Regions from separate parts of the Homo sapiens genome. Here region 1 is linked to region 2. The links come from fine-mapping of genetic effects on gene expression. Tissue or cell type: monocytes after LPS. Region 2 holds a variant in brackets; the other region holds the start of a gene. All regions are shown on one strand. Distances are from middle to middle.

Region 1 (8,328 bases), 24 kb after region 2:
CCCCAGCTTAACCCACCTGTGGAACCTAGAACACCTTCCCCAAGGACCTAGGGAAGGGGCATGCCTGGCCTGTGGCCTCCTGGGGATACCCTCAGAAGATAGTTCTAAGCCAAGGAAAACTAGAGGAAGAATTTCCTCATGGTTGCCTCACGCTGGGATTGTAGCACTATTTCTCCCCTTCATCAGAGACAACAAGAGAAGCATGATACCCACATGGCAAGGAGGCTGAGCAGGGACTGGTGGGCCCACCCCAGAGCATCTGTGCCTGCTGTTGCTGCCCCTGGGGCGCCTGCTTGCCCTTCCCTGCTCTTTCTGGAGGGTGTTTGGGGCCCACTCCTGGTGTCAGGTTCCTGGCCCGCACCACAGCTGTTGCCCCCTTCCCCTGGGGCTGCTGCCTTCCAGGGCTGGAGGATCCGATCCCTCTCAGCCCCACCTTCCCACCCTAGGGGACAGGACCTCATGCTCAAAGCATGCCTTCCCCAGGCCTTAGGCCCCCAGCAAGCTGTGGTCCGACCTGCTCTAAAGGAGAGGAAAAGGGAATTACCCAGGGAACCTCCCTGGGGCAACATCCCTAAGAATAAAGGGACTGGGTCAAAGGAGGTGGAAGGCCCCCCTCCCAACAACCCCTAACATAAGAGGTGCTCACTCACTTCCAGAGATTGCCCGTGTTCAAGGCTACTATCCTCCAAACACAGACCCCTCCCCAACCCCCAGGCACTGTCTCCTCATTCTTTCTCAACCCCCTCCCCCATGGACATGGGGCCATATCGTACAGAAAGTTCCATGTGGGGCAGATAGATGGAGAACTTGCCCCCCACCCCCACCACACACACACATATGTTCTGGTCCTGCACAAGATGTTTACCCACATATGGAAGATTAACAAAGCCAGCCATGTGGGTGCACTGGGAAGGAAGAGGGAGGTTTCCTGGCCCATCCCAATCCACACTAAGGCCTAATAGAAGATGCCAGGAGATGGGCCCAACTTTGGAACCAGATCTGCTATGTGGTTTTCTAGCTAGGGGATCCTGCGTAGGTCATGCCCACTGTGGCCTCAGTTTCCCCATGTGTGCAATCCTGCATCTGGACCAGGATTAGAGGGAGGGAAGGGGCAAGAGAGGAGGACACTCCCCAGCCACAGCAACCCCAGGAAGGGTCCCAGGTTCATTGCAGAGGTCTCCCTCTGGCTTATGGGTCCATATGCCCACAGCCCCCAGAGATGTCTCTGTCAAACCAGCTGTTCCCCAAACAGTCCCAGCCACCAACCACCATGGCACAGGGTAGGAAGATGCAGGTGCAAGCCTTGGAGGGCACATCCATAGGACATCTAGGAAGGCTAGGCCTGGAAGGATGAGTGGGTTTAGACAAGGGAGATGATGATTTGGGAAGAGAACTGCAGACAGAGCAAAGGCTCAGAGATGTCAGAGTGCAAGGCGAGTGGCATTGGCAGAGGTAGAAAGCCACACCAGAGATGCTGGCCCAAGCCCTAAGTGAATTAAGACATTCAAGGCCAGGCGTGGTGGCACGCACCTGTAATCCCAGCACTTTGGGAGGCCAAGGCAGGCAGATTGCTTGAGCCCAGGAGTTGGAGACCAGCCTGAGCAACGTGGCGAAACCCTATCTCTACAAAAAATATAAAAATTGGCTGGGCATGGTGGCACGCACCTGTAGTTCTAGCCATTCGGGAGGCTGAGGTGGGAGGATTGCTTGAGCTTGTGTGGTGGAGGCTGCAGCAAGCTAGGATTGTGCCACTGCACTCCAGCCTGGGCGACAGAACAAAACCATGCAAAAACAACAACAACAAAGTTATTCAGATGCCTTAGCCTGGGAAAGATCATGGTGCCCACCGTCCAGCTGTAATTCAAGTAAAAACCAAACCATGATTATAAAGAATTCCCACAATGTTCTGATTTCATCCATATGTTTGTTTGTTTGTTTGTTTGTTTGAGACAGAGTCCCACTCTGTAGCCCAGGCTGGAGTGCAGTGATGTGATCTCGGCTCACTGCCACCTCCACCTCCTAGGTTCAAGTGATTATCCTGCCTCAGCTTCCCAAGTAGCTGGAACTATAGGCACATGCCACCACGCCCGGCTAATTTTTGTATTTTTAGTAGAGACAGGTTTTCACCATGTTGGCCAGGCTGGTCTTGAACTCTTGAGCTCAAGCAATCCACCTGCCTTGGCCTCCCAAAGTGCTGGGATTACAAGCATGAGCCACTGCGCCCAGCCATCCATATGCTTGATACCCAACTCTTGCACGCTAACACCAGAAGCATGCGTTCAGTCTACCTGCTGGGCAATCCAGCTCCAGAAGGTCTGAATCAGAGCTGTAGGATGGGGTTTTCAGGACCATAGTGCACACTGGGCTTTGGGTGGTAGGCAGGGAGCCCGTCCAGCTCTGGGCAGGGGGGTGGTACAGTGGACTATGGAAGCTGAGTCACATTCTAAGGAGAGAATCAAGAGCTCCCTAAGTACCTTGCCACTCCAAGCCTCAGTTTTCTTATCTGTAAAATGGAGGTAATAATAGTGGCTAAATAAAGCCACTATTATTAGAAGCTTAGAAGAAACGATACAGATATGTAAAGTAGTAACAGTGTACTCTGTTATCCACTCCACAACTATATATTGAGTGGTTACTATGTGCCACGGAGCAGTTCAAGGCCCTCAAGATAACCCGTCTCTACTGAACAAAACCAAGAGCTCTTCACAGACGTGGTGTGGAGTGGAGTGGCTGTTAGCTTAGTAGCCGTGGGAGCCATACTGCCTGGGGTTGCATGACTAGCCGGGTGATCTTAACCTAGGTACTTAATATCTCTGTGCCTCAGCTCTTTTGTGTTAAATAGGTGAGTAATGGTATCAACCTCATAGGCCTGTGTGACAGTGAAGCGAGGTAATGCACAGAAGGCGCTTAGAGGAGTGCGTGGCTCAGTAGTGTTAGGTGGGGGTGGTACCCAAAGGTAGGGCCTCCCCATTGTCTAGTGTCCTCAGGGCTCTCCAGCCAGCGAGGCTGGCAGCAGCGCCCCCGGCTGGTCCCGAGAGAAGGAAGGGCGTCCTCCTCGGTTCCCAGCGGCGCTCCCGGCTCCTCTCCTCCCTGCGGACGGGGAAGCCTCGGTAACCGCTGTAACTGCTCGGGGAAAGGAGCGCTTCCCTGGCCGGGCTCGGCGCGCGCACTGTACCCGGCCGGGATCGTCACATCCAGGGCTCAAACAGCCTTAAGAGGCCGACGCGGTTACTGTCTCCATTTCACAACGGGGGAAACTGAGGCTCCGGGAGGTCAGGTTCCTCATCCCACACCACGCAGCGAGGGCACGGCGCGACGTGGGGCCCGCGGCTCTGCCTGTCCCCAGCCTCCGCCTGGTGGCCGGCAGCCCGCCCCAATCACTGCGGCGTGTGCGCGCCTGTTCCCAGCACGTGTGCGCGCCCCGAGACCCGCCCCGGGGAGCCAGGAGCGCGGTCGGGGTCGTGGGGGCGGAAAAGGGTGGCCAGGGCGGACCCGCGGGGCGGGCAAAAGGGCGGACCTTGGGCCAGGCCCCCGCCCCGCCCTCCGGCCCCGCCCGCCGGGCTGCAGGGGGAGGCGGCGGCGGCTCTGGGCGCCGGGAGTCGGCGGGCGGCGAGGAGCGCGGAGCCGGAGCTGGACGCCGCCGCCGCCACCGCCACCTGCGCGGCAGTCATCAAGGTAGGGCGGCCCTGCGCCGCCGGCCGTGCCTTCCCGGTCTGCGCGATGGGGGCGTCGGGCGGGACGTGCGCGCTGCGGCTGCAGCTCCCGGAGAGGGAGGGATGCGGGGCTCGGAGCGCGGGGGACCTGGCTTTCAGCCCCTTTGCGTGACCTTGCACAAAGCACTGCTCCTCTCCAGGCCTCAGTTTCCCCGTCAGGATAGCTTGCTCATTGGTGGCCCCCTTCTCGCGGGGTTGTTGGGAGGGGCCGCCTCGAGGTCCGGGCTCCCGACGGCTCGCTGCCCTCATGAGCACTGTCTGCACCGCCCACCCCTCCTGCCCGCGGTGAGGGAAGCTCACTCTGGGCGCGGCCAGCCGGTCCCGACAGGCCCCTGCTGTGGCCCGGGTGCTCCATGGGACTCTTGTCGGGACCCTCCCCCTCTTGGCTGCGTTACCTGCTGGGCCTCAGCTTCCTGGTACAGGAAACGGTGGGGTGGGGGGCATCCCCGGGTCCCCGCCAAGCCGGCCTGGGCGTGCATGTGGGGCATCAGCCGGCCCGCCAAGAGGGTTTACTCGTCTGGGGCTGGAGGAGCCCTAGGTTGGAGGTGGCTGGACTCCTGGCGGCACGACTGCCTGGACCAGCCCCACGTAGGCACCTCGATTTAGAGAGTGGTATAGGATAGCTCCTTCCCCTTCCCCACCCGGGCCAGGTGCTGGTGCCTAGCTCTGTGTCCCAGAGCTAGTGTGTGATAAGGTGTGACACACACTAGCTGGTGTGACAAGGGGTGACTGGCGGCCACGCCTGGACCTCAGAGGGGTGACAGTGCCAAGGTGCTGTGTCCGCGTGGCATTAAGGGATGGGGCAGAGCACAGGTCTGAGGGACTGTGGTCCCAGGCTCCCTAGGTAAAGAAGACCTATGGCATCTGGCCCAGCCCCTCTGTAAGATCCCCTCTGGAAGGTCTTGCTGCCCCCTTGCACACTCCTTGTGATAGGAATCTCACTAGTTGTAAACCAAGCTGGAATCTGCTACCCAGTCACTGCCTCTCCTGCTGGTCCTGCTCTGGACACACAAACAACCTCTGACCCTTCCTCCCTCACCCTGGGGCAGTGGTCAGGTCCCTTAAATATGCTCATCTCCAGACCCAGCAGCCCCAGGCCCAGCAGTTTCTCCCATCAGATCCCAGGGAGCCAAGGCAAGAAGAGGGAGCCGAGGTGTCTGCCCTGGAGCAGGCTGTGGGGCCTCCGCTTTCCTGGGGCTTGTTCAGAACCCACCTGTGCATCAGGACTGGAATGTGTCTCCCCAGCTTCCTGCCCCTCCTGGGGACCGTCTGAGAGGTCCGGAGTGAGGAGAGCCGGAGCCCCTCTGCAGGCCTTTCCTGCCCCATGGGGCCTCTTCTCCACCTCCCTGATGCCTGCCCTGTTTGAGGGAGCAGTTTCTAGGAATCACTTCTCAGCCTCCTGGTCTTTCTTGTCCCCTTCATGACCTGCCCTGCACCCAGGGATTTTCTTAACAGCCAAAAGAGGGCAGGAGGCCCCTGGACAGGTAGTGAGCTCTTTGTCATCACAGGTATTCAAGCAGAACCTGGGGGTGAGCTACCTTGGACTGAAAGTCTATGGAATTCTAGGGCTGAAGTAGTGCCTATGACCTTGCCCTGCGGCCATGGTGGAGCTGCACAGGACTGGGAGCTGGACCACAAATGAGTGTTATTATCCCCTCGTAAAAGCAGGCAAAGTATATGTGCTGGCCCATGAGCCCAGCTCCGACGCACAGGCTTAAGTGCTACCTGGGTCTCCTGTCATCTCGACACATGTATAATCTGGGCCCTGTTTTCCTGCTTGCCTAATTCAAGCCTTTTTGGCCTGATTTAGGAGCATGGCAGATTCTGGTTATTAAAAAGTCATGCTATGACTTTAATTGCTAATACTTTTTAAATGCACCATGGAATCATGGAATGTCTGAGCTGAAAGGAGCCTTCAGACGTCGTCTCATTCAACCCCCTCATTTTACAGATAGGCATCCCCTGTCGCCAGAGGGGATGTGACTGGGCAAAGGTCACACAGCAAACCAGCAACCGAGCCCAGGGATCCTGATTCCAAGATTGGAGTGCCTTTTTTTCTCCAAAAAAACACATAACATATAATAAATGAAAGCAGTCTGTATTTATTCCTGTAAAATTAGCAAAAATAAAAATAAAAAGATGAAACTCTGTGCTGGCAAGGCTATAGGGATTCGCCTGTGGCATTTAATTTTGCAGAGCAACCTGGCAGCCTGTTATCATGAAAATGATCATATTTGCCCTTTGCCCTTAGCCGGCTACTTTGGGGACTTTATCCTAAGGAAGTAACTAGGGAGAGAGACATATGTAGTGCTGTTATTTGTAAGAAGTTGTCTTCTGGCCAGGCACAGTGGCTCATGCCTGTAATCCTAGCACTTTAGGAGGCCAAGGTGGGCGGATCACCTGAGGTCTAGAGTTTGAGACCAGCCTGGGCAACATGATGAAATCCTGTCTGTACTAAAAATATAAAAATTAGCTGGGTGTGGTGGCACATGCCTGTAATCCCAGCTACTCGGGAGGCTGAGGCAGGAGAATCACTTGAACCCGGGAGGCAGAGGTGGCAGTGAGCCGAGATTGTGCCACTGCACTCCAGCCTGGGCGACAGAGCGAGACTCCATCTCAAAAAAAAAAAAAAATAAAGGAGTTGCCGTCTAGTGAAGAAGTGTTCAGTTTTATCTGAGGCTTAATAAACATTTCATTTGACAAATACAGCTTAAAAAATAGTGGCACTGAAGCTTACATTACCGGAGTCTGGCCAGCATAGAAACAGTTTAATCCAGAAGAAAGACCATGAGACTAAAGTCAGCAGACATAGATTCCAGATTGAAGTCTTCCTCTTCCCTACTGTGTGACCTTGGGCCGATCCGTTCCCCTCTCTGGACCTCACTTTCTCCATCTGTGAAATGGGGGTAGACTCAGCAGTTGCTGAATTTGTTTGAGCTCTGACAGCCAACCTCTTAGAGTGAACAAATCTCAGTAGCAAAGCCGAGATTGGAAGGAGATTCATTAAATGAATCCCCTTAGAGGCAGGTAGCTAGCTCCCCACCGAGGGGTTTCAGCCTTAAACCTTTGCTATTTCAAAATGGCCAGAAGCTGGATCGTTTTAGAAGTTGGTGTGTTTTTATCTTCTCTGCCAAATCTCAGGAGGTCCAGAAAATAATTCAGCAGAATCTTCTTGTGTTTTAAGTCTATAATCCATGCCTTGCCTCCTTCAGAACAGATTGGACGTGCTTTGCAATCACACCTGGTCTAAAGGGCCAGGAGTAGGTGACTTTGCTTCTGTGGTCAAACTGTGCCTCCTGGGGGTCTGCAGGCTGCTATGGGAAACTTACTAGGTTAAACCACATGAAACGGCCAGTATGTGACTTTTTTTGACTTACAAGAAATGGCAATTTCATTTGGTTCAGCCTAAATGGAAAAAGATATACAGGTATTTAAAGAGCGGTGTGCTCCTTACTATAATTGAGAGATTGGCAGGGTGTGGTGGGGACAAGGAAGGTGTGATTATGAGCTTGCAGAAGTCAAGGAGGAGGGACATGGGAGCCTCACTTTGAAGAATCACTAACAGTAATAATAATAGCTAACATTCATTGAGGGTTTACCGCCTGCCTAATTCTGTCCTAAGTGCTTTATGTTCATTCATTCCATTAGTCATTCAGCCAGTATTTATTAAGCACCTACATTGTACTAGTTTTTTTGTTTGTTTCTTTTGTTTTGTTTTTGTTGTTGTTTTTTGTTGTTGTTGTTGTTTTCTGAGACAGAGTCTCGCTCTGTCTCCCAGGCTGAAGTGCAGTGGCATGATCCCGGCTCACGGCAACCTCCGCCTCTGCCTCCTGGGTTCAAGTGATTCTCATGCCTCAGCCTCCTGAGTAGCTGGGATTACAGGTGCGTGCCACCACACCAGCTAGTTTTTGTATTTTCAGTAGAGACGGTGTTTCGCCATGTTGGCCAGGCTGGACTCGAACTCCTGACCTCAAATGATCCGCTTGTCTCGGCCTCCCAAAGTGCTGGGATTACAGATGTGAGCCAACACACCTGACCTGTACTAGGTATTTTCTAAGTGCTGGGGAAAGGGGGAAGGCGCTGATATTAAACAAAATAGACCAGAAAGATCTTCCCCCAAAGAGCTTACAATCAGATGGGGGGAAGACAGATGAAAAACAATAAATAAAATAGATGAATAGGTGATAAATAAAATCAGTGATAAATGAGGTGGAGCAAATAGAACATAGGAGGGGTTAGGGTGTGTGAGGGGGCAGTTTTAACTAGGGTGGGCTGGGGGCCTCATTGAGAAGGTGATTTTTAGGCAAAGGCTTGAAGGAGAGGGGTGAGTCAGGCTCATTTCTGGGGAAACAGCCATTCAGGTGGAGGGAACAGCTGGGGCAAAAGCCCTGAGGCAGGACCATGCCTGGCATGTTCAGAGAAGCACGAGCTGGGACAGAGTGATGGCGGGAGAAGAGGAAGAGAGGAGCAGGCAGGCCCTGGGCTAGACTGTGTACCCCACCATGCTCATAATGGAATCCTGCGAGTGTATGACGGAGCTACTCTTTTTATCCCGCTTTTCCAATTAAGAAAACAAAAATACAGAAAAGTTACATGGCTTATTGAAACTGTGTCT
Region 2 (8,328 bases):
ACCCTGCCACTCACAACCACATATGTACAGTCAGATGCCATATAACAGGCTGCATATGTGATGGTCCCATAAGATTACAATGAAGCAGAAAAATCCCTGTCACATAGTGACATCATAGCCGTCATAACATCATAGCACAACATGCTACCTTTTCTATGTTTACATGTGTTTAGATACACAAATGCCATTATGTGACAGCCACCTATGGTATTCAGTACCGTAACAGGTGCACAGGTCTGCAGCCTCGGAGCAATAGGCTACACCATCTAGCTGGGTGCGTAGTAGGCTAAATCACCTAGGTTTGTCTGCGTCCAGTCTACAATGTTTGCACAACAGTGAAATCACCTAATGACGCATTTCTCAGAGTGTATCCTCATAATTAAGCCACACGAGACTGTACATATAGACTTATAACCTTGAGAACTCTCATGCTACTCTATCAAAGAACTACTCGGTGAGGGCAGATGGAGAAAGAAAAAAAAAGAAATCAGGAAGCTTTTGAGAGAAAAGCTCTCAGTGGGCAGTGTTGAACAGTGGCCACCACCCAAGCTTTGAAGTCAGACTGACCTCTTTGACTCTTGGCTCTGCCTCTTTCTGGCTGTGTGACTTTAGGCATGTTAGCTCACCTCTGTGTCAAATAGCCCAACTAGTCCTCTTGACTAGGGCTGTTAGAAGGATAAAGGAAAAGGACGTGAAACCTGATTCCCTTCCCTTTCTTTCAGCAAAGACTGAAAACCCACATAACCAGTTCCCGAATCTTTTCCCTTATTTAGTCTGAAATCAGAGATTCTTTTGGGTTAAAAGAAAAACATAACCTTTCCAATGCAAATGCAGCCAGATGATTAGAAAGCTCTCAGCCCTCCACACAGCAGGGAAAACTGCTTCCATCTGATTGCTTTTCTACCCTGCCTGCCCCCAGCCAGGCGGCTTCCTCTTCTCTCCACCCATACTGCCGGAATCCACTGTGCAAGCCCCGGTAGAGCAGCACAGGGGTCAGAAAGATTTGTGGTGGCGCACGCCTGTGTTCCCGTCTACTCTGGAGGCCGAGGTGGGAGGATCGCTTGAGCCCACGAGGTGGAGGTTGCAGTGAGCTGAGATTGTGCCACTGCACTCCAACCTGGGTGAAGGAGTGAAACACCATCTCAAAGGAAAAAAAAGAACACTAGATCAGCCAGGTGGCTCCAGACAGCCTGAGAGTTGATTGTAATCATGGACTCACTAGGAGACTGAGTGTGCCCCTGAATTTACATATTCAGGAATTTTATTTTTTTTTATTTTTATTTTTTGAGACGGAGTCTTGCTCTGTCACCCAGCCTGGAGTGCAGTGGCGCGGTCTCGGCTCACTGCAAGCTCCGCCTCCCAGGTTCACGCCATTCTCCTGCCTCAGCCTCCTGAGTAGCTGGGACTACAGGTGCCCGCCACCATGCCCGGCTAATTTTTTTGTATTTTTAGTAGAGACGGGGTTTCACCATGTTAGCCAGGATGGTCTTGATCTCCTGACCGCGTGATCTGCCTGCCTCGGCCTCCCAAAGTGCTGGGATTACAGGTGTGAGCCACCGCACCTGGCCATGAATTTTCTTTATCAGTGAGCTCAGCTACATGGAGACTCTGGGTATGTGATTCACATTAACCAAGAATACACTTGCATATGATCCTCAGAGGCCCAGTGTTTTGTGCTTTGTGCTTTAAAGGGTTGCATAAGGCCAGGCATGGGTGGCTCACACCTGTAATGCCAGCATTTGGGGAGGCTGTGGCAGGAGGATTACTTGAGGCCAGGAGTTAGAGACAAGCCGGGGAAACATAGCAAGATCTCATCTCTACAAAAAATTAAAAAATTAGCCAGGCACAGTAGCACGTGCCTGTAGTCCCAGCTACTTGGGAAGCTGAAGCTAGAGGATTGCTTAAGCCCAGGAGTTCATGACCAGCCTAGGCAACATAGCAAGACCCTGTCTCTAAAAAAAAATAAAATAAATTCACTAGGTATGAAGGCACCCGCCATAGTCCTAGCTACTCAGAAGGCTGAGGTGGGAGATTACTTGAGCCGCCCAGGAGTTCGAGGCTGTGGTGAACTGTGATCACGCCACTGCACTCCAGCCTGGACAACAGAGTAAGACACTGTCTCTATTAAAAAAAAAATAAAAAAGAGAAAGAGTTGCATGTAGTTGGTGTTCCTTAGTTTTTAGCTTTTAGAATACCCATCAAATATCCATTGTCTTGAGTTTGAGGACAGAGAATGTTGAGGTTTCCTGCCTGCCCTGTGATTGAGGAACCCAACTTTAGGGAATGCCCCTTGTTATTCAGACTTTGGTTTTGAGAACAGGATCACTGACCTCTTGAATATCAGATCTGGAAAGACTCAGAAATCTAGTCTGCCCCACTCATTTTCTGGCAGGGACAGCTGAGCTGGGGCAAGGGAGAAGGACTGGCCCAGGGTCAGGCAGCAAGAGGCAGGGCTACAGCCGGAACCTGGCCTCCCATGCCCAGGCCACTGCCTTCCACACAGCACAGGGCCTAGTCCATGGGCATGGCCCAAAGAGAATTCCCGGGCTCCTGCTTCCCTGGTCCCCCTTCTCCAGGGTTTTCCTTCTTTCATTCCACTGGTGACTGTCCTGTGGCTTTTCTCTTTTCTGAGGTTTCTCTTTTTCCTCCCTACAGTTCTGAGCCAAGACGAGCACTCAAGGTAGGGCATCGAGCTGGAGGGGGAGGTACTGCCCGACGCCACCCACTGCCACTGCTGTTCCAGGCTGTGCTCACTCTGCCTCCCTGTCCGGCATGTCTGTGCCTTCCCTAGAGCTGGAAGCAGGGTATCTTATGTGACAAAAGCCTTCTTTCCAAAGCCTTAGAAATAACAGTGTGTAGCCAAGCGTGGTGGCTCACAATCCAGTGCTTTGAGAGGCCACGGTTGGAGGATTGCATGAGGCCAGGAGTTTGAGACCAGCCTAGGCAACATAATGAGACCTTTTTAAAAAATTAAAAATTAATTAGCTGGGTGTAGTGGCACACACTTGTAGTCCCAACTACTCAGGGGCCTGAGACAGGAGGATCACTTGAGCCCAGGAGGTCAAGAGTGCAGTGAGCTATGATCATGCCATTGCATTCCAGCCTGGGTGACAAAGTGAGACCCTTTCTCTAAAAATAAAAAAAGAAAGAAAAATAAATAAATATCCATGAGCACATCTAGGCCTGGGAGGAGGAAGGGGTGATATCAAGGAGGGAGACCCAGTGGTGTGGAGCAGTGGCCAGCGCCAGAGCTGGGTCTGCTTTCTCTACGCAGTGTCTGCTGAGCACCTGCCATGGGCTGAACACACCTGGGTTTGGATCCTGGCTCTCTTTCGTGACAAGGGGAACTTACTTTCTCTGTGTGTGTTTCCTCATCTGTTAAATGGGAATTAGGGCACTTTAATAGTTATCCCACAGCCTTGTGGATATGAGGGAGATGGGTCAGGTCATGGTAGGTCCTTTCCTCCCTTG[C/A]GGGGGGGCTTGTTGTATTTTCCCGGGCATTGGATTCCGAACTCTGTGAGCCGACTGAGGGGGTGGGTGCAGGGTGGGGAATAGTAGCTCTCGAGCTGTCATGCAAACTCAGTGAGGGAGACGATGCTCACGCTCACGTTGCACTTGCCACATGCCAGGCACCGTTCTGAGCCTTTTGCACATATTAACTCACTGAATCCTCTCCCAGCCACATGAGGTAGTACTGTTATTATCCTCATTTTCCAGATGAGAGGATGAGGTTAAGTAACTTGTCCAGGGGCTCAGTGGTCAAGACAGAATTTCCACCCAGACAGCGTGCCCGCAGCATTCATGCCACTGACCACCAGGCGGTGCCGGTACATGGCCAACTCCAGCGTCTTTGATGTGTTGTTATACTGTCTGATGGGTAGGAGAGGTCACATAAGCCTGCATGCGTGTAGCCAGGAGACACCAAAGGACAACGCTTGGAGGGTAGGGACTAGAGTGTGGGCATCCAGGTGGATTCCAGCTGGTGGGGAGCTCAGATGGTGCCCGGCAGGAAGTTTGGTGATTAGGGCTTTAGAATGAGACAGTCCTGGCCAGGCACAGTGGCTCATGCCTGTAATCCTAACACTTTAGGAGGCCGAGGTGGAAGGATTGCTTGAGGCCAGGAGTTTGAAAACAGCCTGGGAAACATAGTGAGACCTCGTCTCTACAAAATCAAAAAATTAGCTAGGCATGGTGGTGCCTGCCTATAGTCCCAGCTACTTGACAGGCTGAGGTGGGAGGATTGCTTGAGTCCAGGAGGTCGAGGCTGCCATGAGCTATGATCACGCCACTGTACTCCAGCTTGGGCGACAGAGCAAGACAAACAAACAAAAAGAATCAGACAGACCTGGGTTTGGTCACATCTGCCTTATACTGGCTGTGCCTTAGGCAAGTTGCCTACCCTTTCAGAGCCTCTGAGGCCTCATCTGTGTCATAGGAATAATAAAAGAACATCCCTTCTAGGGTTGCTAGGAGGATGAAGTGAGAGAATATATGCTGCGTGGTGTTGGTGATGGGGGTGATGCCGGAAGCCTGCACAGCCTCTGTATTCATAAGTTTCTATATCTCCAGACAGTAAAGTGTTAGACTCCAGAGAGAGTGGGGAGTGGTCCAGGAAAGGCCTGATGCTCATGGGAGACTGGTCCCTGTGCCACAAACAAGATTTTCACTTCTTGCCACATAAGGATAGGATATGGGGACTGTGGAGAAGAAGCAGGCAGAAACTTGCCAGCAGAGCGGCTGGCGCACACAGCAGCATTTTTGAGAGGCAGTGAAGCTGGTTTTTTATCTAGGTCAGGGACAGGATTGGATAGGGGGAGGAGGGTGGCGCCAGGGGTTGGAACTGCCTGGGTCCAGCCAGAAGGCAGAGAGCAAGCTGAGTGGATGCACAGCCTTTCAGCCTTGGCACAGCGAGGGAGATGAAAGCAGGGGTGGCCTGGGTTGGGGCACCACAGAGAGCCCCCGTGGAGTGGTGAGGGGTGATGTGATAAAGTCAACAGGGGGCATTCGTTCCCTCCCCTGGGAGCAGAGGCCCTTCTAGTGTGTCAGGCTCTGGGCGGAGGGCAGCAGCCCCTGGGCAGGCATCGGAGCTTCCAGCCTGGGGAGACCTTGGAGATCATCTTGGCCAGAGTGAAGACCCACCCAGGGAGGGCCAGGACCACCTGTGGGCTGTGCACATGTGACCCTGACGAGGATGTGCCCCAAACTACATGTGATGTTCTTCATTTCCAAATCAATCTGGCCACGTCGGAGTCATCCTTGCTGCAGCATCGCTTGCACATGTGATGTTCTTCATTTCCAAATCAACCTGGCCACGTCGGAGTCATCCTTGCTGCAGCATCGCTTGCACATGTGATGTTCTTCATTTCCAAATCAACCTGGCCACGTCGGAGTCATCCTTGCTGCAGCATCGCTTGCACATGTGATGTTCTTCATTTCCAAATCAACCTGGCCACGTCGGAGTCATCCTTGCTGCAGCATCGCTTGCACATGTGATGTTCTTCATTTCCAAATCAACCTGGCCACGTCGGAGTCATCCTTGCTGCAGCATCGCTTGCACATGTGATGTTCTTCATTTCCAAATCAATCTGGCCACGTCGGAGTCATCCTTGCTGCAGCATCGCTTGCACATGTGATGTTCTTCATTTCCAAATCAACCTGGCCATGTCGGAGTCATCCTTGCTGCAGCATCGCTTGCACTCACCTCCAGCCCATACATCAATGGGAGAGAAAGGGCCTGAGTTTCAGCCAGTAAATACCCTGGAATTGTGAGGTATAGCTCTAAGAATGTGTTACGTGACTGAACGGCTTCTGTAATGTCCATCCCAGCAGAATTGAGAGCCACTGCTATAGCTGATCCTTCTCTGAGGCTCAGGTCCTTGCTTGAACCTTCCCAGTGCTTGTCTGGCTTCTCCTTGTATGCCCCAGCAGCAGGGAGCTCATTCCCTCCACTGGATGGGCAACTTGCAAAAGGAAAACTCAGAGATGTTTATCACAGCATTATTCATAATCAAAAACCAACTGCAAACACCCCAGGTTCAAATTAAAAAATGACAGGAAAAGGATTATGAGTAAGTTCTGGTAAATTCACCCAATAGAATCATCACCAGAGGTTAAAAATGATCACTGGGAAGCTTATGTAGCAACATTGAAAGGTTTTACAAAGTGACACTGAGTTAATTTTACAGTATGATTGTAAATATATGATAAAATATGTTGATTTTAAAAACAAACACTACTTGAGCACTTGCTATGTTTTGGTCCCTGTACTTAGTGTTGTCACACATTATCTCACTTAGTTTCCCAACTGCCCAGTAGGTTAGTTGGTATTTGCCCCTTTTACAGATGAGGAAACAGAGGGTCAGAGTGGTTCAGTGGCCTGCCTGAGGCCTTCCAGCCAGAACATCAGCCAGGACTTAAATTCAGACCTACTGGTCCCTTTACCACATCATGCTGACATCAAGAATAGAGAAGGGTGCTATGAGTATTTTATTTTTCTTTCAGACTTCCTCTTCTGTTGCCATTATTGGAAATTTCTAAGGAAAAGAAGCTTTGGGGGCTCATTTGAGGGTGTGACTCCCCAGGACCAGGGAGATGTTTATGTCCAACTGATAACATATTTTACTCTCTTCTCCAGGATGACATGGAAGCTTACCGGACCCAGAACTGCTTCCTCAACTCCGAGATCCACCAGGTCACAAAGATCTGGAGAAAGGTGGCTGAGAAGGAGAAGGCCCTTCTGACGAAGGTGCGGGGTGGGGCCCTATTCCAGCCGTCTCCATCCCTGGCCCCTCTGCTGGTCCCCATGCTGCCCACTCCGTCTCACTCTCCTCATTTCCTGTCTGCCCCTCTCCCTCTGAACTGACCCCTTGTGAGCAGGGCCCATATCAGGTTCTTCTCCAGACCCCTGTGGTCGGGGGATTGAGTCATTTGTTCCGCAGCGTTCACTGAGTAGCTGTGGGGTAGGGACATCAAGACCAATAAGGCTGGTTCCTGCCTACAAGGAGGGTATAGACTAGTGAGGGAGTGTAACCCAATCAAGATGTACTTGGGGCCAGGCGTGGTGGCTCACACCTGTAATCCCAGCACTTTAGGAGGCCGAGGCGGGTGGATCACAAGGTCAGGAGATTGAGACCATCCTGGCCAACACGGTGAAACCCCATCTCTACTAAATATACAAAAAAAAATTAGCCGGGCATGGTGGCGGGCGCCTGCAGTCCCGGCCACCCGGGAGGCTGAGGCAGGAGAATGGCGTGAACCTGGGAGGCGGAGCTTGCAGTGAGCCGAGATTGCGCCACTGCACTCCAGCCTGGGCAACAGAGCAAGACTCTGTCTCAAAAAAAAAAAAAGATGCACTTGGACTTGTGGGATTCTTGGGGGCCCAAAGGGAGGAAGGAAAGTCAGGGAGGGCTTCCTGGAGGAGGTACCTTCTGAATTGAGTCCTAAGGATGAGTTAATGTTATCCAGGCAAGCAGTGGAGAAGGACCTTCCAGGAAAAGAGACAGCATAGTAAAGACGTGTGGTCTGAGAGGTGGGGGGCAGGGCTAGGGAGAGTGAGACATGAGGCTGGAGTTGAGGAGTTTGGAATTTACTCCAAGGAAACTGGGGAGCTGAAGGATTCTGAGTGGAGAAGTCCTCAATCAGACTTCTGTTCCTGTTCCAAGAAGACTGCTGTGACTGCTCAGGAGGGTGGGCTTGAGAAGGTGGGCCTGGAAGTAGGGAGATTGTTTGGAATCAGCAGCAGAAATCCCTGAGAAGGGGCCAGGTGCGGTGGCACAGGCCTGTAATCCCAGCGCTTTGGGAGGCCGAGGCAGGTGGATCCCTTGGGGCTAGAGTTCAAGACCAGCCTGGGCAACATGGTGAAGCCCCGCCTCTACCAAAAATACAAAAATTAGCTGGGCGTGGTGGTGCACACCTGTAATCCCAGCTACTCAGGAGGCTGAGGCACGAGAATCATTTGAACCCCGGAGGTAGAGGTTGCAGTGAGCCAAGATCATGCCACTGCACTCCAGCTTGGATGACAGAGCGAGACTCTCTCAGGAAAAAAAAAAAAAAGGAATCCCTGAAACAGGTGTTAACGATGGGACTCAGGAAGCAGCCCAGGCAACAGAGGTGGGCACCAGGTGGGATAGGTAGAAGAACAGGCACAGAGGATGGCTTGGAGCTGGTGCCCGGCAAGTGTTTGGAGATGGCGACCGGGCAAGGGTGCAACAGAATTGTTCCCCTGCTGCCACCCCAGGATGAGATAGGATTCGGGGTGGCCCAGAGATCATGGCAGTGCTATGAGTGGATTTTCACTGTCCCCATCTCACAAAAATGGAAAACAAGGAA

The links. PIP is the estimated chance that this variant, and not a neighbour inherited with it, causes the effect.
Region 1: it holds the start of CORO2A, and the variant in region 2 is fine-mapped to the expression of CORO2A in monocytes after LPS (Quach 2016, PIP 0.95). The same link has a PIP of 0.9 or more in monocytes.

What each region holds. Positions count from the first base shown.
Region 1 is chr9:98,187,906-98,196,233 of GRCh38, reverse strand. CORO2A (coronin 2A) reads left to right here and starts at 3,597. Exons shown (of 12, transcript NM_052820.4): 1 at 3,597-3,675. RefSeq lists enhancers at 337-853, 4,090-4,744 and silencers at 3,268-3,817, 3,888-3,937.
Region 2 is chr9:98,211,525-98,219,852 of GRCh38, reverse strand. It overlaps TBC1D2 (TBC1 domain family member 2), which reads left to right. Exons shown (of 13, transcript NM_001267571.2): 7 at 6,635-6,745. Among named protein-coding and RNA genes, the nearest start is that of MIR6854, 14 kb to the left of the region's middle. RefSeq lists a silencer at 792-1,086. The variant C/A (reference allele first, on the strand shown) is at 3,472.